Linked DNA regions of Homo sapiens. The protein of the gene in region 1 interacts with the protein of each later gene in a pairwise test. Each region holds a gene or a part of one and is shown in the gene's direction. Other genes may lie near its edges.

Region 1 (7,023 bases):
TCACCCAGGCTGGAGTGCACTGGTATGATCTTGGCTCACTGCAACCTCCTCCTCCCGGGTTCAAGAGATTCTCCTGCCTCAGCCTCCCAAGTAGCTGGGATTACAGGCACCCGCCCCCACTTCCGGCTAATTTTTGTATTTTTAGTAGAGACAGGGTTTCACCACGTTGGCCAGGCTGGTCTCGAACTCCTGACCTCAAGTGATCTGCCCTTCTTGGCCTCCCAAAGTGCTGGGATTACAGGTGTGAGCCACTGCGCCCAGCCTAATTGCACTTCTCTAGAACCCTAATACTTTGTATTCCAATGAAAGTAACTCTATGCAATGTGTGTTTTTTTTTTTAAAACAGGTATGCATCTTCTATTGATGATATTTTGGAAGATGAAGAACATTATGCAGATCAGTTAAAAGAGTATCTTTTTTATGCAGAAGCATTGCGGTAAGTTTAATAAAAGTTCCAGGTGCAGCCACAGGGTTGTTCACCACTCTCCTCATATGCCACTGTAAAGTACAGATAGTAGAGTGTTTTTTAAATGAATGCATTCCCTCAGATAATGAATGAGGTCTCATTGTATTTCTCTGTGTTGCAGAGTGCTAGGCATAAACATGTAAGATGAGGCCTGCCCTCGAAGCATCATTTTGATAAAACCTGCCAGCCTCAGGCATCAAGTGTGCCTGTATGTTGTTGTTTCCACTTTTTCCAGTTTGAAGATTGGAAGCAAAATACAGATTCAGTGTGTGTAACAGTATCTGTTACTATGTTGTATATTGCTATTTTTATTCTGTGTGTCTTATCAGTAGCTTGTACAACGTCCTTATGTAACAAGGACTTTCTTATCTGTTCTTATGTTATCTTTTACAGAGCCAAAGGGAATTCTCTTTTAGATAGTCCTACGTGACTAGGAAAAAGTTAATATATTTTTTTCTGATCAGTTTAGAAAAAGGAATTATTTTCCCAGAATAGGTGGCTTTTGGTCAGTTGTCCTGTCACTTTTTTTTTTTTTTTTTTTTGAGACAGACTAGAGTTTGGCTGTGTCACCCAGGCTGGAGTGCAGTGGCGTGATCTCGGCTCACTGCAACCTCCACGTCCCGGGTTCAAACTATTCTCCTGCCTCAGCCTCCTGAGTAGCTGGGATTACAGGCGCCCGCCAACACACCCAGCTAATTTTTGTATTTTTAGTAGAGACAGGGTTTCACCGTTGTTGGCCAGGCTGGTCTCAAACTCCTGACCTCGGGTAATCCACCCGCCTCGGCCTCTCAAAGTGCTGGGATTACAGGCATGAGCCAACACTGTCCTGTCGCTTTTAAAAGCAGTATAAGAATTCTGTTAGGAAAACAAGAGCACTATTCCCTTACCTCTGTGGTGATTGGTGTGAAATCATCTGCACATTGTTAGCTCGTTTTCCTTCTAGGGCTTTGAGTAGTAGGAAGTCTCACCAATGTATTTTCAAGTCACCAAGCAAAAGAAAGTTGGCTAGGTGAGGTGGCTCCTGCCTGAATCCCAGCACTTTGGGAGCCCAAGGCGGATGGATCACCTGAGGCCAGGAGTTCGAGACCAGCCTAGCCAACATGGTGAAACCCCGTCTCTACTAAAATTACAAAAAAGTTAGCCAGGCATAGTGGTGGGTGCCTGTAATCCCAGCTGCTGGAGAGGCTGAGGCAGAATAACTGCTTGAACAGGGGAGGTGGAGGTTGCAGTGAGCCGAGATCGCACCATTACACTCCAGCCTGGGTGACAGAGTGAGATTCTGTCTCAAAAAAGAAAGTTGCTGAGTACAGTGGAATTCTCTGCAGCTCTTAAAAATTATAAAAGGGATTAATGTATGTTGACATGGAAAGATGGCCAGGGTGTATAGCCATTTGAGAAAAGATGTAGGAACCATTTGGGGTGCATGGATATGGTATTTGTCAATGCCTAGCTAAATTCTGAAAGATTATATACTATCTGGTAACACCGATTATATCTGGATAGTGGGATTGGAGGAAAGAGAGTGTTCTTGAACTTTCTTGTTGTATTTTGTTTTTTTTATTTTTTTGAGTTGGAGTTTCACTCTGTTGCCCAGACTGGAGTACAGTGGCACAATCTCTGCTCACTGCCACCTCTGCCTCCTGGGTACAAGTGATTCTCCTGCCTCAGCCTCCCAAGCAGCTGGGATTACAGGCATGCACCACCATGCCCGGCTAATTTTTGTATTTTTAGTAGAGATGGGGTTTTACCATGTTGGTCAGGCTGGTCTTGAACTCCTGACCTCAGGTGATCTGCCCACCTCGACCTCCCAAAGTGCTGGGATTACTGGCATGAGCCACCATGCCCAGCCTCTTTTTTTTACTTTGTGCATTGCTGTATTAGAATCTTTTCTTTTCTTTTTTTTTTTTTTTTTTTTTTTTTTTTTTTGAGACGGAGTCTCGCTCTTTCACCCAGGCTGGAGTGCAGTGGCGTGATCTCGGCTCACTGCAGGCTCCGCCCCCCGGGATTCACGCCATTCTCCTGCTTCAGCCTCCCGCGTAGCTGGGAGTACAGGCGCCTGCCACCTCTCCCGGCTTTTTTTGTATTTTTAGTAGAGACGGGGTTTCACCGTGTTAGCCAGGATGGTCTCAATCTCCTGACCTCGTGATCCACCCGCCTCGGCCTCCCAAAGTGCTGGGATTACAGGCATGAGCCACCGCGCCCATCCGAATCTTTTCTTTTTACAGTGAACATGGATTACTTTTATGATCATAAAAACTAATAAACATTTCTAGGCCAGGCGACATGGCTCATGCATATAATCCTAGCACTTTGGGAAACTGAGGTGGATGGATTGCTTGAGCCCATGAGTTTGAGACCAGCCTGGGCAACATGGGCGAGACCCCATCTCTACAAAGCACAAATTAGTTGGATATGGTGGCACATGCCTTAGTCCCAGCTACTTAGGAGGCTGAGGTGGGAGGATTGCCTGAGCCCAGGAGGCAGAGGTTGCATTTAGCCGAGATTGCACCATTGCCCTCCAGCCTGGGTGACAGAGTGAGACCTTGTCTCCAAAAAAAAAAAAAAAAAAATACCTAATAGACATTTCTAAATCACAAAGAAGAAAACTTTGAGGTATTATCTTTTCTAAGAATACTCAGTTGCTATGTGAGATTACAGCATTAGTTCTTACATTATGTAAGAACTAATTATGTATGTAGTTCATTATGTATGTAATTATGTATACATATGTATACATTATGTATGTAGTTCTCACATACATTAAAAAATGTTTTATGTATGTGATAATGGCATGTTTATTGAAAGAAATGTTCCAAGTATATGGAAAACAACTTTTTTTGTGTTAAGAATATATGACGTTTTTGGCCGGGTACAGGTGGCTCATGCCTGTAATCCCAGTACTTTGGGAGGCCGAAGTGGGTGGGTCACCTCAGGTCAGCAGTTTGAGACCAGCCTGGCCAATATGGAGAATTCCCATCTCTACTAAAAATACAAAATTAGCTGGGTGTGGTGGCGCATGCCTGTAATCCCATCTACTAGGGAAGCTGAGGCAGGAGAATCATTTGAACCCGGGAGGCGGAGGTTGCAGTGAGCCGAGATCGCGCCATTGCACTCCAGCCTGGGCAACAAGAGCAAAACTCTGTCTCAAAAAAAAAAAAAAAAAAAAAAGAATATATGAAGTTTTTATGGTTAGGTTCTGCTAGATTCCATTAGATTCCATTTTTAATGTTGGGCTACTACATTTTAAACTTGAAAATTCTGGGCACACACATTCTGCCCTAGCGAGACATTGTGAATGGTTCTCCTCTACCCTTGAAAAAAATGTTTGACATGTTAAAGGAAAAGTTAAATGGCAGCACATTTTTTCATCTGTAGGGCTGTGTGCAGGAAACATGAACTTATGCAGTATGACTTGGAGATGGCTGCTCAGGACTTAGCATCCAAGAAGCAGCAGTGTGAGGAACTGGTAACTGGGGTGAGTATTTTCCTTTTGGCCTCTGATGATACTGTAGCAACACGGAATGTTCCTCACAAGCACTCACTCTGAGTGAGTAACTCACTCCTGTAGAATCAGTTCCAGTTACAATACTCAGGACGGCTGAACCTTTTACAGGGGAATAATTTGTGAGTAACTTTATAATTCTTTTATTATTATCTTGATACAAAATGATGTAAGCCATTAAAACCATGTACTGTATAGAATTATAAGAAATTTTGCCAACATTTCTCTGGTGTAATCAGTATCATCCGGTTTCGTTTTAAAAAAAAAAAAAATTATTGGGCTGGGCACGGTGGCTCACACCTGTAATCCCAGCACTTTGGGAGGCCAAGGCCAGTGGATCACCTGAGGTCAGGAGTTCGAGATTAGCCTGGCCAACATGGTGAAACCCGATCTCTACTAGAAATACAAAAATTAGCCAGGTGTGGTGCCTCACGCCTGTAGTCCCAGCTACTCGGGAAGGTGAGGCAGAAGAATTGCTTGAACCAGGGAATCGGAGGTTGCAGTGACCCGAGGTCACGCCACTGCACTCCAGCCTGGGTGACAGAGCAAGACTCCATCTCAAAAAAATTGTTTTTATTAATTTTTATTTTTTGAGACAAGGTCTGGTTCTGTTTCCCAGGCTGGAGTGCAGTGGTATGATCAGGGCTCATGGAAGCCTCAAACTCCTGGGATCAAGTGGTCTTCCTGCCTCAGCCTCTTGAGTAGTTGGGACCACAGGCATGTGCCCCCATGCCTGGCTAATTTTGTTTATAGTCTCATCATGTTGACCAGGGTGGTCTCAAACTCCTGGACTCAAGTGATCCTCCCACCTCCGCCTCCCAAAGTGCTAGGATTACAGGGGTAAGCCACCATGCCTAGTCTATCATCTGGTTTCTAAGTCCAAGTGAAAAAACATGCAGTGACCTTTATCAGGTTTAACTTTGCAAGGTACTTTGCAGAAATTTTAGTTGACTTTGAAAAGCCTTACCCACTTAGAACCAGTGCATCTCGCCTAACAGGGAGCTTTTGATGTACTTTATTCTTTAATGCTTACAGTGAGTACTTGTGAGGAAAATTCTGTACCTGATTGCATTAGTCTTGGATCATTTTTATAATCAGCTTTCTACTCCAGTTATTTCATTGCAATAAATCAGCCATCATGGTGAGCAACACACATTCTGAAAGTAGTAAACCAGCAGCAATGTCTCTACTTAGTTAATAAGCACTGTAGTTTTTGTTTGTTTGTTTGTTTGTTTTTAGACCGAGTTTCGCTCTGTTGCCCAGGTTAGAGTGTGGCTCACTGCAAGCTCCACCTCCTGGGTTCACACCATTCTCCTGCCTCAGCCTCCTGAATAGCTGGGACTACAGGCGCCTGCCACCACGCCCGACCAATTTTTTTTTTGCACTTTTAGTACAGACGGGGTTTCACCATGTTAGCCAAGATGGTCTGAATCTCCTGACCTCGTGATCCGCCCGCCTCGGCCACCCAAAGTGCTGGGATTATAGGCATGAGCCAGCGCGCCTGGCCAAGCACTATAGTTTTAAAAGTGCTTTTCACAGAGATTACCCACTGGCTACATCTGTGAAAAGTCACAGATATATGTGGGGAAAGACTTGTGACCAGGACACATGTATAAACTAGGCCCTTGGTTTATTTTTAAAACTCAGTGGGAGAAGTTCCCAGGCCATTTTCAGGGAGCTTGGTTCTCTATCCTACATGTCAAGGGAAAAGTGTTTTCTTCAGTAAACTCCAGAGAGTGAGGAAATGTTAAAGCAGTGAAGCTTGGGGTTGCCTTCCCATGCTTGGATTTAGGTATCCTGTTTTATTAATAGATGCCCAAGTTTGAGCGTTGAGTTATGCAGATTTTAAATATGCTTCTTTAGTTTGGTTTATTTCCATAGTTGCCTAGTGAATTTATCGACTTTTTTTATAACATAAAGTAATTTTTAAAATATCATTCATACAGAGTAAGAAATAACGTCTAATATTTCACGTGGAAGTTTTCCATTTGATTATGAAATTCAAGCCGGGTATGGTAGCTTACAATGGCAATCCCGACACCTTTAGCAGCAGAGGCGTAAACCCAGAATTGCTTGAGCCCAGGAATTTGAGACCAGTGTGGATTAATATAGCTAGACCCTGTCTTTACCAAAAATTTAAAAATTAGCTGGGTGTGGTGGCATGCACCTGTGGTCCCAGCCACTTGGGAGGCAGAGGTGGGAGGATCACTTGAGCCCAGGAGGTTGAGGCTGCAGTGAGCCATGATTGTGCCATTACATTCTAGCCTGGGCAACAGAGCAAGACCCCATTTCAAAAAAAAAAAGAAATTCAGTTAGAAGTGTCTTCTTTTTGACTACTCCATATTATTTCAGTGTTAGAAATTCTATTAGGATTCTTGGCTATGACTCTGTAAAAATAAATAAAAACTCATATAAGAGATCCCTGGTTGTGAAGCTTATGGTGGTTTTGTCTGACTTAGGGGAAATATGGCAAATGTTTTCTATTTCCTTTGTGTGTGTAGTGAAATATATATAACATAAAATGTACCATCTTGTCCATTTTTAAGTATATAGTTCAGTAGTGCAGTCATCCCTCAGTATCTTCAGTGAGATTGGTTTAAGGATCCCTGGGATACCAAAATCCTCAGATGCTTAAGTCCCTTCTATAAAATGGTGTAGTATTTGCATGTAACCTGTGCATATCCTTTTGTATACTTTAAATCAGCAGTCGCCAACCTTTTTGGCACTAGGGACCTGTTTTGTGGAAGACAGTTTTTCCATGGACCAGGGCAGGGGGTGCTGAGGATGATTTCGGGATGAAACTGTTTCATTTCAGATCATCTCAGGCATTAGATTTTCACAAGGAACACACAACCTGGATCCCTCACATGCGCAGTTCACAATAGGGTTCGTGCTCCTAAGAGAATCTAATGCCTCTGCTGCTGATCTGACAGGAGGCAGAGCTCAGGTGGTCGCTTGCCTCCTGCTATGCAGCCTGGTTCCAAACAGGCCATGGACTGGTATCACTCCGTGGCTCTGGGGTTGGGGACCCCCTGCTTTAAATTATCTCTAGATT
Region 2 (7,042 bases), on another chromosome or scaffold:
CATCAGCGTAAGCATCACCTAGGAGATTAACACTTTTTAAATTAAAAATTAATTTAAATTAAAAATTATTCCAGGCCTCACTCCAGAAGCAGAATCTCTTGATGTGGGGCCCAGAAGTTTGCATTTTTACAAGCTCACAATTGATTGTTAGGCACCCAAAGTTTGAGATTTGGAACACTAACTCCATGACTGTACTGTATAACTCACTGCATCAGGGTCTCCATGCTTTGCAAGCCAGGAGCTCTTCTATATGGAGAGATAAAATGATGCTATCATTCACCCACAAGCCCCTCTGCTGGTTCAGTAGCAAGTTCCAATTTCTTGTTAGCAAAACTGTTCAGATCCTGGACTCAAGTGGACCTTGTTTCTTTCCTGGGACATCATTGGCTGAATTAAATTGTCCACACAATTTTGTCTCTGTTGGGGATTGTGCCTTCTCACTTGCCCCCCTTGTTTGATACAGCCCTCTGTGGCTTGCGACATGTCATCCTGAATGCTCTCTGAAAACGTCCTTTGTCCTCACCAGCCGTCCACTTCAGAAGTGGTGGTGTTATTCTGAGGCAGGGCTTGGGATGCCATATAGAATAAAGCTATGATTGTACTAAAAACCACCAGAGGATAAGCGGCTAACACAAACATGAAGAAGGCCTAAGCACATGCTGTACCAGGGGAAAGAATGAGCGAATGATGCATTGAGACTGCTTTGTTTCTGAGGTCTGGGTGCTCACAGGCAGCCCCAATACGCTTGCTAGTGAGGTCGATAGGATTTGTTTGGTAAGCGTACTAAATTCTGGGGCCCAAAGCCCTGTCTCCTGAAAGGTGCCAGCCTAAGTGTCTAAGATTCCTTATGAATTGGGAGGGCTCCATGCTGTGTTCTTGGGTTCTGGTGGCATTGGGGACCTCCCTCGCCCCTCATGCACACACATACATCTACTATCTTCCTCAGAGCTCAACCCTAGAAATCCAAGCTTCCCTCCATAAGTTCCAACAAACACCACAGCCTTCTGCTCTGATGGAGAAACGTTACACGTTTCCTCCTTACCACCATGCTGCTTTTAAAACTTTTAGTAGCCTGTAATCCCAGCACTTTGGGAGGCCAAGGCAGGCAGATCACTTGAGGTCATGAGTTTGAGACCAGCCTGGACAACATGGTGAAACCCTGTCTCTACTAAAAATACAAAAATTAGCCGGGCATGGTGGCACACACCTGTAATCCCAGCTACTGTGGAGGCTGAGGCAGGAGAATCGCTTGAACCTGGGAGGCGGAGGTTGCAGTGAGCTGAGATTGCGCCACTGCACTCCAGCCTGGGCGACAGAGCAAGGCCCTGTCTCCAAGAAAAAAAAAAAAAAAAAACAAAACCTTTTAGTAGAAGCAAAGTCACATGCTCTGGGACACTTATATTATTTCAGTGACAATTTCCCACCACAAGGAACACTGAAATACCACAGGAAATGGTGAATATGAATGGGCAGGGCTGGGCTAAATTTCATCGTGGAAACTTTCTACCAAAATACTTTCCATACAAATTCACTTTCTTTAGTTTTGATGACTACCCACTGGATATTGTGGCCAGCTGCTATCGACCAACCAGGAAACTGGAAAATAAATAAATAAACTGTAATCAACTATTTCATATGGCCTTTTAGGAACTCTGGGTCTGGGTCCTTTTTTTGGTGGGAGCATAGAAAAGTGGTACTCCAATCTAAACTGAGCAAATGGAGGACTTTGGAGGTCAATACACACACACACACACACACACACATATACACACATATATATGTACACACACATATATATGTATATATATATATATTTTTTTTTATTTTGAGACAAGGTCTCCTTCTGTTGCCCAGGCTGAAGTACAGTGGTGCAATCTCAGCTCATTGCACCCTCAACCTCCCAGGCTCAAGCAATCCTTCCACCTCAGCCTCTTGGGTAGCTGGGACTACAGGTATGTGCCACCATGCCGGACTAATTTTTACATTTTTTATAGAGATGGGGCTCTCACTATGTTGCCCAAGCTGGTCTTGAACTTATGGGCTCAAGTGATCCTCCCACCTTGGCCTCCCAAAGTGCTGGGATTACAGGTGTGAGGCACCCTACCTGGTGTGTATGTGTGTGTATATATATGTATATTCAACCAGACCCTACTCAGAATAGTAAAGCATATTTAATTACAAAAACTCTTTATTATTTCATAAGAATAGTAGAGAAAATCTGACAGAAAGGGAAAGGAAGGTAGGTAATTAACATTTAGGGAGCACCTATTTTATGCCAGCACTTTGCTAGGACTATGACATAAAGAATGCTATATAACTCTCACAACCATCTCATAAGGTATTATTACCTGCTCTCCATTCTCCTCCTTTTTAGGTTAGGAACAGGTTCACTGAGGTTAGTAACTTGCTCATGGTCACCCACTTGTAGTGACAAAGCCGAATTCAAATGTGGTTCTTTTTTCACTTTCCCCTGGTGTACTAAAGAGAAAGCTTGTATAGAGTCTTAATCCATACGGATGTCCATTATATTTAAGGCAGCCTGGTTGTTAAAATAAGTAGCACCATTCAATAAGAAAAACCGATGTTATACATCTATAGATGTATATACTCATTTCTAGAAATACTCATTTCTAGTTATATTGTGCTATTCATTTTCATGCTAATTCAGAAGAACAGATAATAGGGTCTGTAGTAGTTGTAAGCAGCCCTTGAATGTGAAAGTGTTAACAATTTTAATCCAACTCCAAGAGGACCAGAACTTGGCATTCCTTAGATGCAGCATTTAAAATTGTTCCCAGTGCCCTTTGAATGCTACTTTTCCCAGCCAAGGCAGGCTTATGTGGAGGAGATAAAGATGATAGCTTGAGGACTAAGGGTCCAACCCTATATAAATTACATTGGGGGAAATAGGGGAAGGTCTTTGAAGCTCAGAGTCTCTGACTGATATTTTGGGTAGATTTCAACCCTCTGCATTCTCTTCTATTTGTTTCTAGAGAAAACTGTGGTAGAGGCCTTAGTGAATCCCAGAGTCAACATCTGTCATCACCTTTTAGCAGGTAAGGCTAGGCAAACCTTTGAGTTTGGAATGGGTAGGGAAAATGTGGTCCCTCACGATGAGCCTCCCTACCCATTACTTTGCTAGAGGGACTGAAAACCCTTTAAAGACTTGGCCTTGGAAACAGAAGATCTAGGGACAGGTAAGGTGGAAAAAGGAGGTGAACCTACACCCCAAAGGGCTGGAAGTAACACCTTGACTATTTGCACCACGCCAGCAAATAAAGCTGAGAATCAGCTCAGCCCAAGGCCTGGAAAGGAAGCACAAATGCATGAAGAATAACTTGAACCTCATGGTTCTTTCAAAAGTCTCTTCGGCCAAAGTGTGAGTTGAAGAGTCGCATATCATTTGAGACTCTCTACTCATGCTCGCTGTTCTGAGGTTTGACTTTACACAAATCCAGCTCAGCTGCAGAAGCAAGCCACAATGGGGACCTCAGAGTGAGCCTGAAGACTCCCCACACCGCCTCTTTGAAGTCCCTTCCAGGTTCCCCACCCGATGTCCTCTAGCTCATTTGAGCCTTGTCGCCCTTTATGCTATTCTTCCGATATGGGTCGTAATTCCGTCTATCTAGGGTTCTTCCTGCGCGTGCCTTAGAGGCCAGAAGACCCTGACTCACGTGCGTGTCCTCAAAGCCCCCAGCCCCAAGCGTGGCTGCTGGTGGGCGCATCAGTAAACGCGGGTGGAACGGAACAGGCTCCTCCAACCTCTTTTCCACCTCTGATTTCCGTTAGACATTTGCTCCGCACGGCGGCCTCCGCGAGGCAACGTTGGACACTGGGAGGACAGCCGCAGAGGCCCAGGGCGCACTTCCTGCCGGGCGGGGGCGGGGCCGCGCCTCCTCCCTCCCTCCCTCCGTCCTTCCTTCCCCACGTGCCCCTTCCCCGCCCTCCCCGCCCCCTCCCGGGCGGCCGCGGCGCCTCGGGGGCGGGGCCGGAGCGGGTGGGCGGTGTGGCTGTGTGGGCTGGGCGCCGCGGCCGTGCTGCCAGCGGACCCGCGGCGGGCTCGGGCGCGGAGCGGGGGCGCGCGGCGCGGAGCGGAGCGTCTGAGCGCCGGCAGAGACCAGCCGGCGGGTGGCGGCGGCCCCCAGCACGGCCGGTGCAAGGCCTCGGGTTAAGCGGCGGCCGAGCGGGGCTCGGCCCGGGGTGCTCGGGGAGCTCGCCGCGGCGGGCAGCAGGAGGAAGCGGCGGCGGCGCGTCCCGAGCGGTGCGCGCCATGGCGGGCGGGCCCCCCAAGGCCCTGCCGTCCACGGGGCCCCACTCCCTGCGCGACATGCCGCACCCGCTGGCCGGCTCCAGCAGCGAGGAGGCCGTGGGTGGTGACAGCACGCCCAGCCCGGACCTGCTGATGGCCCGCAGCTTCGGTGACAAGGTGGGGCGCCTGGGGCCGGGGAGTGGGAGGCTTATTTCGCTCCCCGTGGGGGGGATGATGGATCCGGAGCCTTCGTGGGCCTGGGGCCGCGCCCACCCTGCCGCCCCTTCCCGGGGGACGGGCGTGTCCTGGCCCCGGAGCCCTCGGCGAAGCGTCTCCTCTGCCGCCTCCGCGGGGTCGCAGCCGCAGAGGGACAGGCTTCGCTGCCTGTGACTGGTCGCAAGCACCGGTGACAGCTGGTGGGGAGGGGTCCAGCCTGCGTGTTGGAGCGGGAGGCGTGTGTTCAGGGCAGGGCGCCTGTGTCCTCGGATGGGGTTCCGAGTTCCTCCAGGTGCATCCCTGCAGGCTGAGCTGCTGCATAACTTGTAGCTCCTCCAGTTTCCGAGACTGCACAGAAAGCAGGAGTTCCTGGCTTTCCGTGCTGGGACCGGGCAGCCCTGGGCTTACAGCGAGAGTCTTCTTCCCCCTAGTCAGTCATGTGGGGAGTGATCTTTGTTTAGGTTTGCTGTTTGTCCTGAGGAGTCACCTGACTCAGACCCCAGCCGGCGGCGGGAGGAGAGCCTCGTTGTGGTTTTCTGTCTGGGGCTCCATTCACCTCCGACGGCCTACCACTCTGTTTAGGTTTGGCAGAGGCTGGTTTTGTGGTTGATGGAAAGAAAGCTCGCCCTTTGACCTTCTTTGTACGGAGGGAGGCTCCAGATTTTCTTAGAGCAGCACAACCCTCCTGCTGCTTGGAGAGACAGCAGAGTCCAGGCAGGGGTAAGGGACGACCTCCTCCCTACCCCCATGGCCATTTCAGCTGTGAAGGAGACTTGAGCAGTGATTGTATCCCCGCTCCTGCCGTCACTTAGTCACTAACTGCAGAAATTAGAATTGTTCTCAGGTCTTGTGATCAAGATTTTCTCTCCCTAGTAAAATACTAAATGAATTCCCCCTTGTCCCAATATTAATGGGAGCAGGGGACCTAACTTTCTTCTCCCGTTAGAGGGGACACCATGTGGTACAGTGAAAAAGGAGTATGAGAAAATATAACCTGCCCTCCTTGCAGTCAGAAGGTCACTGAGCACTTAAAATCACTAGAGAGTGCGACTTGATGTACCTTCTGCAGAGGGTTTGTGAAAGCAGGGAGTGAAGTTCCAAAGCATTAGGAACAGGAAAATTAAAAAAGCTAATGGAGGCCAGGTGCAGTGGCTCACACCTGTAATACCAGCACTTTGGGAGGCTGAAGTGGGATGATTGCTCTGAACCAAAAGTTTGAGACCAGCCTGGGCAACATATCGAGACCCCGTTTCCACATACGCACACAGCATGGTGGCATGCACCTGTAATCCAGGCTACTCAGGAGGCTGAGGCGGGAGGATTGCTTGAGCCTGGGAGTTCAAGGCTGCAGTGAGCTATGATTGCACCGCTGTACTCCAGCCTGGGCAAGAGAGTGAGACCCTGTCTCCAAAAAATGTTGAATAACTGAATAAATTTGCTTTCTTATCGACAAAAATTGGTCTTAAAATAGTGTAGGAACTGGGGGTTAAACCTCATTTCCTTCTCAGTTCTGTGTGGGACACTGAATTAATTATCTATTGCTGTGTAGCAAATTACCCCAAAACTTATCACCTGGAAATAGTGTCTGTGGGACAATCTGAGTGGTTCTGAATTAGGCCTTTCTTGAGGTTGCAGTCAAGTTGTTGGCTTGGGCTGCAGTCATCTGAAGGCTGGATTAGGGGAGGATCCACTTCTAAGCTCACTCACATGGCTGTTGGCAGGTCTTAGTTACTCTCCATAGGGCTGTTTGATGTGGCAACTGGTTTTTCCCCCCAGAGCAAGTGATCCAAGAGAGCTCAAGACTCTAGCCAGTCTTGTATAACTTATCTTGGAAATGACATGCCTCTGCTGTATTCTGTTGGTCACACAGATTGACACTGGTACAATGTGGGGAGAGGGTGTGAATATCAGGGTGTGTATACCAAGAGGTGGGGATCATTGGGCCATCTTGGAGACTGGCTACTACAGATAGCCATTTAAAATATTTACCTAACGATTCACTCATGGATGATACCTGACTCAGAAGTATGAGCATTTTACTAATAAGCACTTGGAAGACAAATTCCCCGTACCACCAAGATCTGGTTAGTGGTGAAGAAGTCAGTCTCAAGTCTAATTACCGATGGCTTCCTTTAAAGGGTCTGTTCTGTGTAGGAGGGAGAGTCTTGAAGGCATTATTAATTATTGAATATATATGTATTTTTTTGAGCAGAGACTTACTCTGTCACCCAGGCTGGAGCGCAGTGGCCTGATCCTGACTCACTGCAACCTCCACCTCCCTGGTCAAAGTGATTCTCGTGTCTCAGCTCCCGTATAGCTGTGATTACAGGCGTGTGCTACCTTGACCAGGTAATTTGTGTATTTTTAGTAGAGACGAGGTTTCGCCATGTTGGCCAGGCTAGTCTCGAACTCCTGGCTTCAAGTGATCTGCCCTCCTCGGCCTCCCAAAGTGCTGGGATTACAAACATGAGCCACTGTGCCTGGCCTAATTATTGAATATTTAATGAATCTCCTAACAGCTGTGGGGAGCATCTAAATGACACCATTCTCAAGGGCCTGATTTATAGTAAGCCACTT
Region 3 (7,215 bases), on another chromosome or scaffold:
AGCATGGCATCAGCATTTTCTTGGCTTCTGCTGAGGCCTCAGGAAGCTTACACTCATGGCAGAAGGCAAAGGGGGCACAGACAGGCATGTCATAGGACAAGAGAGGGAGTGAGCGAGAGAGAGAGATTCAGAAAAAGAGTCAGAGTGAGAGAGAGAGAGATAGGTGCTATGCTCTTTTTTTTTAAACAATCATTTCTTGTGTGAACTAATAGAGCAAGAACTCACTCACTACCACAGGGAGGGCACCAAGCCATTCATGAGAGATCCTCCCCCATGACCCAAACATCTCCCATTAGGCCCCACCTCCAACATTTGGGATCACACTTCAACATAACTTTAGGAGGGGACAAATAGCCAAACAATATCAACTAGATACATAAGCATGTGACATCAGGTGACTATGTGATCCAAGCAGCTCCTCATGAAATGGGTGCTATAATGAAAAAAATCCTAAAATTGATCCAGCCTTACTTCAGCAAGCCATGCTCATGTGGAAATGTAATATTTGAAAGTGGTCCTATAAGCATACATTGCATGAGCATTTGGCTTTTACTCTCAGCAGGTCTACCCCTATGATCTCATAGGGAGTTTTATCTGAACAGTTAACTAAGGGGTAAAAACTCCAAAGTTGGTTTACAGATGGATCTTTATCATTTGCGGGAATCAGTTAGTAGTTATTGCAGTGCAAAAGGGCAGTGGACAAGGGAAATCCTCCTCTTGGTATACAACAGTGCCCACTATGCTTCAAAGGGCAGTTAGAATGAGGCTTCTATGCTCTTTCCAGGACAAAGGCTAGAGGTTTGACTTGATGAGACTTAGAAGAAACAAGGTAGGATCTCGGGGTCAAGAAGGTTTGAGAAAATGTATGTAGGTGACTTTCTTGGAATGGCCCCAGAATAAAAGCATATTTGTATGTAGCCCACAACAATGCTCTCCAAAAAAGCCTTTTCATTTGATGAATTTATGTCATCAGAAATAAGTTTGAAAATAATGCTTATTCTCCTGTGGATGTTAATCTTACTGCTTTTCTAGAAACTCCAGTGCTTGTTCTATGGCTTCACATACCATGTGGCCATGGTGGCAGGGATTTATGCTATGCATTGGCTCAAAAATAAGGATTTCCTCTCACTAAAGGATAATTGGCTGCTTCCATTGCTCAGCACTCAGCTTGCCACAGCAACTATGCAGGACCCTTACCCTGCCACACTGGAGGATGCCATGATTTGTCTTTAGTGGAAAAGTCAAATTGGCTTTGCTTTTTCTGCTCATCAGATTTCCCTCAACACGCTCGTCCATGAACTTATTGACTGGTCTATTCCTCAGTAGATTTTGCACATTATATTTTTTTCTAACTAGTTAAATCACTTTCTAGCAAAAGAAGTAAAGCCTTTGGGCAATGCCCATGGGGTAACTTGTCTCATCACAAAACCCATTACTAGAAACAGCAGACTTCATAGATGGTGGAATTGAATATTAAAGATCCAGTTATGGTCTGAAGAGATCCCATCTGGAAAGTATAAGGGAGAGAAAGCTTTTTGACAAGATGTATATTCATGAAACCATAAATTAATGTATGATATTATTTCTCTTAAACAGGACAGGAGTGGGTAGGGCTGCTCTTAATATTATACTTGCACTCCAAGTTTTGGACTATGCTGGTTTAAAGGCTTTAGTACCCAAGTAAGAATTCTTCCATTAAAAAACCTAGTGATAGGCTGGGCACGGTGGCTTAAGCCTGTAATCCCAGCACTTTGGGAGGCCGAGGCGGGTGGATCATGCAGTCAAGAGATCGAGACCATTCTGGCCAACATGGTGAAACCCTGTCTCTACTAAAAATACAAAAAATTAGCTGGGCGTGGTGGCGCACGCCTGTAGTCCCACCTACTCAGGAGGCTGAGGCAGGAGAATCGCTTGAACCCGGGAGGCGGAGGTTGCAGTGAGCAGAGATCACGCCACTGCACTCTAGCCTCGGCGAGGGAGTGAGACTCTGTCTCAAAAACAAACAAACAAACAAACAAAAAAACCCAGTGATAGTCCCACTTAATAGGAAGCTGAGACTACAGGAGGAATAGACATACTGCTTTGGAGTTGTACTAATAATGAGTAGGTTTGGGATTATCTCCCTTTGAGGGGCTGTGAACTGCATGCTCAGGTGCTCAAAGCATGGAGGTAGGGGGAGTATGTGAAGAAAGGTAATATTAATTGGACAGCCAAAGGGGCAAATTATAGTCACGTTTTCCCTACTCTTCTTCCTCATCCTACCCCTCTTCCTATTTTTCTTGTTTTTGGTTGACAAGCATCAATATGGCCTTTCTATGTTTAGAAAATTCTCTGCCTTAGGAATTTCCATGAAACTTGGCCAGATTGGCCAAGCACACATACTCTCCAGGGTTTTAATACTAGAAAAATCAACACAGAGAAACAGGGTGATGGAGACATTTTTGTGGCAGTAATAGCAGGGAAGTTCTCAGAGGTAGCTGTGGTACTGCTGCCAGGGAAAGCAACTGGAGTCCAGTAACATCAGTGTTAATGACAATATTGACACTGGTGAAGATGGTGTGGCAACCAGTATCAGGCAATGGTAGCAGCAATGTCTGTACCACTGGTTCTGTGGCCTTGCTTTTGGCTATAATCCAAGCTGTGCAGCCTTGCTTTATTCTGCCCATTTTCTGAGCCCATTCTCTATGGTTTCTAGCAATTCTGTGAGTTACAGCATTATTAAGAATTTCCTGGTTCAGATTGCAATTAGAAAACCTTGAATCTTCCTTACTAGTCAGAATAAGCTTATCAAGGAAAAAATAAAGTCTTTTAATAACTTATATTATTTACAGAAATTAGCAGAGAGCATTTTGAGAGTACATCTGATACTGTGGTTAATACATATCAGGATCCTCAACCTGAAAATGTTATCATTTACTAAGGAATGGAAAACTTGTACATGAAACAAATACAATCTGCAAGATGGAATAAAATTAAATGCTAAATTGAGAACAGACTGTCATTTAGAAAGTCTTTCTGAAAGAGATGGGACTATATTTAATTTCTGAAGGATGGGCAGGAGATGGCATTTAAAGTACAGAAATCATCAAGCACAGAAACAAATGTGGATACTCATGGGGCAGTGACCAACCTGACTGAAGGGTGGGTGCACGTCTGAAATCAATGGGAATACATTTGAATGATTAGGAGATAATATATTATTAAGGCCTTGCCTCTAATCAGAAATAAAGATATTCTCTATTTCCCCAAATAAGGAATTCTTACATAGAGCTTAATGTATTTAAAAATTTTTAAATGGGCCTACAGAAAAGAGGTGGGGCTGACGGAAGTAAATAAAACCTGAAGATAAATTAAAGAATATATCAACGTGGGCAAAATTTTCCATTAGTTTTGGAACTTAGTTTTGTTTTTGAATAATAAGCAGTTAAATAATTAAAGCTTTGCCTTGGCAATGCAAGGACTGAAGATTATTTCTCGGTGGCAATTTTCCAGACTTGCTAGTTGTCCTTGGGTCTTGGTAACATTCTGCTCATTAACTTCAGGAAGACGTCCAGGAGTAAAGATGCATTTGAAAGTGGCTGAAAATAGTTTGTAAAGCTCAGCTTTCCTGGCTCGACAGTGAAATGACCGCACAGGCCAGTCACTGGGTCAAAAATCAATTAACAAAACGGGAAGTTTTCATGTCTTTATTTTTACATTAGCTCGAAAATCACAACCAAGAAGAAAGGCAACCACTGAATACAGGAAATACAGTATTGTTATTGCTGTTTTTTTTTTTTCTCTTGGCAAGGCTGGGTCGGGTGCCTTCCAGCCTCGCTGTGGATCCCGCGAAGTGGACGGTTCGCTTCGTGGCTTCTTCCCAGACCCCGCCACTGCGGAAACCGTCACTCGGTGGCCCCCGACTGGGTCAATGCGAGGACGCCCACCTCCTACCTTTGAGTCTCTCCTCTTCTCCAGGGTACAGCCAACCCTTTCTCCAACGTAGCCGGAGTCCGAGAGTCCCAGTTCCGCCCCTCCAGCCCGCCCCAGGCCAGGTGGGGATGCGCCCGGCCCGGGCCAGCGCTGGTCCCGGCAGTTCCGCGTCTGCGCAGCGGGCGAGGGGCTGGAGCGGGGCCGGCCGGGGAGGTGCAGGAGACGTGGGAGCCAATGGGCACGCTCGGGGGAGCCGGGCTGGCGGCGGCGGTGGCGGCCGGCTGGGCGCGCACTCTCGGGATGGAGGGCGAGCGCCGGGCATCGCAGGCGCCCTCCTCGGGCCTCCCGGCCGGGGGCGCCAACGGGGAGAGCCCGGGGGGCGGCGCCCCCTTTCCGGGCAGCAGTGGCTCTTCCGCCCTGCTGCAGGCGGAGGTGCTGGATCTGGACGAGGACGAGGACGACCTGGAGGTGTTCAGCAAGGTGAGGGCGGCGGCGGCGAGTCCCGGGAAACTTCCAAGGCAACTCCGGGCGTTGCCAGCATTGCGCCGACGGCTGCCTCTGGCGCGCTTGCCCTCCCGGGGCGGTGGCTCTGAGCTGGGGACGAGTGAGGTCCCCCGGGCTGCTGGACCCCGCCTGCCAGCTCTGGCCGCACCCGGGGCCGCGTCGCCTCGGGGCCTCAAACCGCAGCCGCTCCCTCCTCCGCACTTTGACCTTCCGTTCGGCGGGGCTGTGGCTTAGTGGAGTCTGCAAAGTTGTGATTTGTTTTCCCTTTCTGCTTCTCTGACACAGACATCTTCCTCGCGGCAGCTCCCGAACCTGGGAGGCTGGTGGCTCAAAACCGCTCCCGCCAGCTGCTTTTCGGGCGAGGCCAGCCCTGAACTCTGGGAGAGCAGCCAAGTTTAGAGAAATTATTCTTAATTTAGTGTTGTTGCTTGTGGATTTGAGACTTGGGTGAGTCTCGGGTCTTGTGGGAATAGGTTCTAGGAAATCTCCCTGAACAGGAGAAAACGGTTGTTTCTAACAGGAAGCTCCTCCGCTGAGGAGCTAAGGATTTTTCAGATGGTCAGCTACTGCCACCCAACCCACAGCCAGTGCTTTCGTTTTTCCTTGCCCCCGGGAAATTTAGGACCAAAGGCTCTTATTTGCTTATTTTACTGTTGGAGGGAAATTGACTTGTGGGGGCTAGTGGTAGACTTTTGGTACGTGTAGACTGGTGTTTGTAATTTCTTAAAGGGTTTTAGAAAAGAAAAATACCTTTCTTGCAGGGAGGTTGAATGTCACTCCAGTTTCTCAAGTTGCTGCTGAGAGAAGACCTGAGTTCAGATCACAACGCTGTATTCATTACTAAGAAGCCTGTTCATTTTAACGTTACCTGGAGATATTAGGTAAAGCAAACGACCTACTTAACCACCGCATTTACTCTGGGAGAGCAAACCAAAGTTAGGAAGTGACCATGCATACTCTGACTCCAAAGAGGAGTATATAAAACTTATTTCTACTTCGGTTTAAATGGAATGATAGGCCCAGGTTTGTATTCCGAATATTTAAACAGACTATCACAGTTTTGTGCTCTTGACTTTTCTGTTAAGTAGTAAAACAATGGAATTATTTTATGTTTAGTTGTAAACTCTGCCTTTTTATATTCCACACATACTTCATGTTCAGATCAACGACAGTTGGCCAGTTGGTTATTTACTTTCTTTCCTTCTTTACATTGCTGTTTGGATAAGGAATATTAGTCTATGGTTATGCATTGTGAAACTTTGGGATGGGATGTTGGAAATAGCAATGGTGTATCAGAATCATCAGGGTTTCTTTCTGGTTTTTTTTTTTTTTTTTTTTTTTTTTTTTTTTTTTTTTTGTCGGGGCTGGACCCATCTGGCCTCAAGGGATTCTACCACCTCCAGCACCCAAAGGGTTTGGGATTACAGGCTTGAGCCACAGTGACTCGGATTGTTTTAAACTTGTCAAGTGGTTTCTCTTTCCCCAGATTCTAGGTGTTCTAGCTGACTCTTAAGAATCAATGTTTAAATGAGGTCCTCTTGTCAGAGGCAGATCCAAGGTGAAGCTAATGAAATTGAAGCTTCAGCGCTATTCGTTTGCTTAGACCTCTGGGCGTGTTGGGGGTTGCTGGAGTCGCAGATGTTCTAGGTGGGAAGGAAATGACAGGTCCCGACCAGAAGCATTTCTAAATAAGCATTTCTGGTGAATTGCCTAAAGCTCTCTCAGACTAAGGAATCTAGATCTCCATGGCTCCAATCATTTATTGAGATTTCTTTTCTCATTCTGAATAATGTGTTTTTCCACCTAATTTTGTATTCTTTTAAAAGGGGACCTTCCAAACTCTAAAAGCCCGTACACCTGGGTCCACCCTGCTTGTTAGTGTTAACTGCGCGTGTTGGATGCTTAGAAAAAGTTAAGAACAACTTCTGTAGAAACTGCCCACATAGATTAAGGCAAAGATATAATATTAGTGAAAATCCAACAAGAGTAGTTGGAAAAGTTTAAAATTAGCCACTTTCATCCATTTCAGTAAGTTGAATTTCTCAACCGTTATCTGTAGTTAAGCAAATTTAAGAAAGCCTGCTCCACGTGGCCTTCCCTTTCCACTACCTTCCTTGCCTGCTCCTCTATAAAACAAACACCACTGCTGTTCAGCCTATCCTAGGATGGAATCTCACAATTACTTATGAAGCAAACTGTCCTTCCCTTTTAGTAATTTGAGATTGGCAAACTACATATTTAATTTACATTCACCTTTATAGTCCCCTTATTCTCTTAGATTATTTGTGAATATGTGTCTGGTATACTCTTCCAGAAGCTTTTTAAAGAGTATGAATTTCCCCAGCACTTTGGGAGGCTGAGGCTAGCGGATCACTTGAAGTCAGGAGTTCACAACCAGCCTGGCCAACATAGTGAAACCCCATCTTTACTAAAAATATAAAAATTAGCCGGGTGTGGTGGTGGGAGCCTTTAATCCTAGCTAACCGGGAAGCTGAGGCAGGAGAATCTCTTGAACCCGGGATGCAGAGGTTGCAGTGGGCTGAGAGATCACGCCACTGCATTCCCACCTGAGTGACGGAGTGAGACTCTGTCTCAAAAGAAAAACAAAACAACTTCTTATTATTTTTTTTCCACAACGTATTACAAGTACATGGCAAATATACATTTTGTGTTAAGTATGCTTTAAAAAAAAGAAATACAAGATTTAGTTCTTGCTATCACAATCTTATACTCCAGGTGGGAAGATGTGACAAACTCTAAATGGCAATATAAATCAAGAGGGATGGAAAGTAAAACAAA

Evidence for each region. Proteins that work in one complex are often made in the same cells at the same time.
Region 2: the proteins of SNX4 (region 1) and SNX30 interact in binary tests that used the Homo sapiens proteins (3 or more experiments, as listed by UniProt).
Region 3: the proteins of SNX4 (region 1) and SNX7 interact in binary tests that used the Homo sapiens proteins (3 or more experiments, as listed by UniProt).

Annotation. Positions count from the first base shown.
Region 1 is NC_000003.12:125,454,184-125,461,206, reverse strand, and holds part of SNX4 (sorting nexin-4), read left to right. Parts: intron 1-346; coding exon 347-436; intron 437-3,841; coding exon 3,842-3,941; intron 3,942-7,023. UniProt on the Homo sapiens protein: Involved in the regulation of endocytosis and in several stages of intracellular trafficking. Plays a role in recycling endocytosed transferrin receptor and prevent its degradation.
Region 2 is NC_000009.12:112,746,732-112,753,773, forward strand, and holds the start of SNX30 (sorting nexin-30), read left to right. Parts: upstream 1-4,028; 5' UTR 4,029-4,270; coding exon 4,271-4,426; intron 4,427-7,042. UniProt on the Homo sapiens protein: Involved in the regulation of endocytosis and in several stages of intracellular trafficking. Together with SNX4, involved in autophagosome assembly.
Region 3 is NC_000001.11:98,657,520-98,664,734, forward strand, and holds the start of SNX7 (sorting nexin-7), read left to right. Parts: upstream 1-4,201; 5' UTR 4,202-4,212; coding exon 4,213-4,392; exon of another isoform or gene 4,393-4,863; intron 4,864-5,177; exon of another isoform or gene 5,178-5,297; intron 5,298-5,416; exon of another isoform or gene 5,417-5,439; intron 5,440-7,215. UniProt on the Homo sapiens protein: Involved in the regulation of endocytosis and in several stages of intracellular trafficking. Together with SNX4, involved in autophagosome assembly by regulating trafficking and recycling of phospholipid scramblase ATG9A.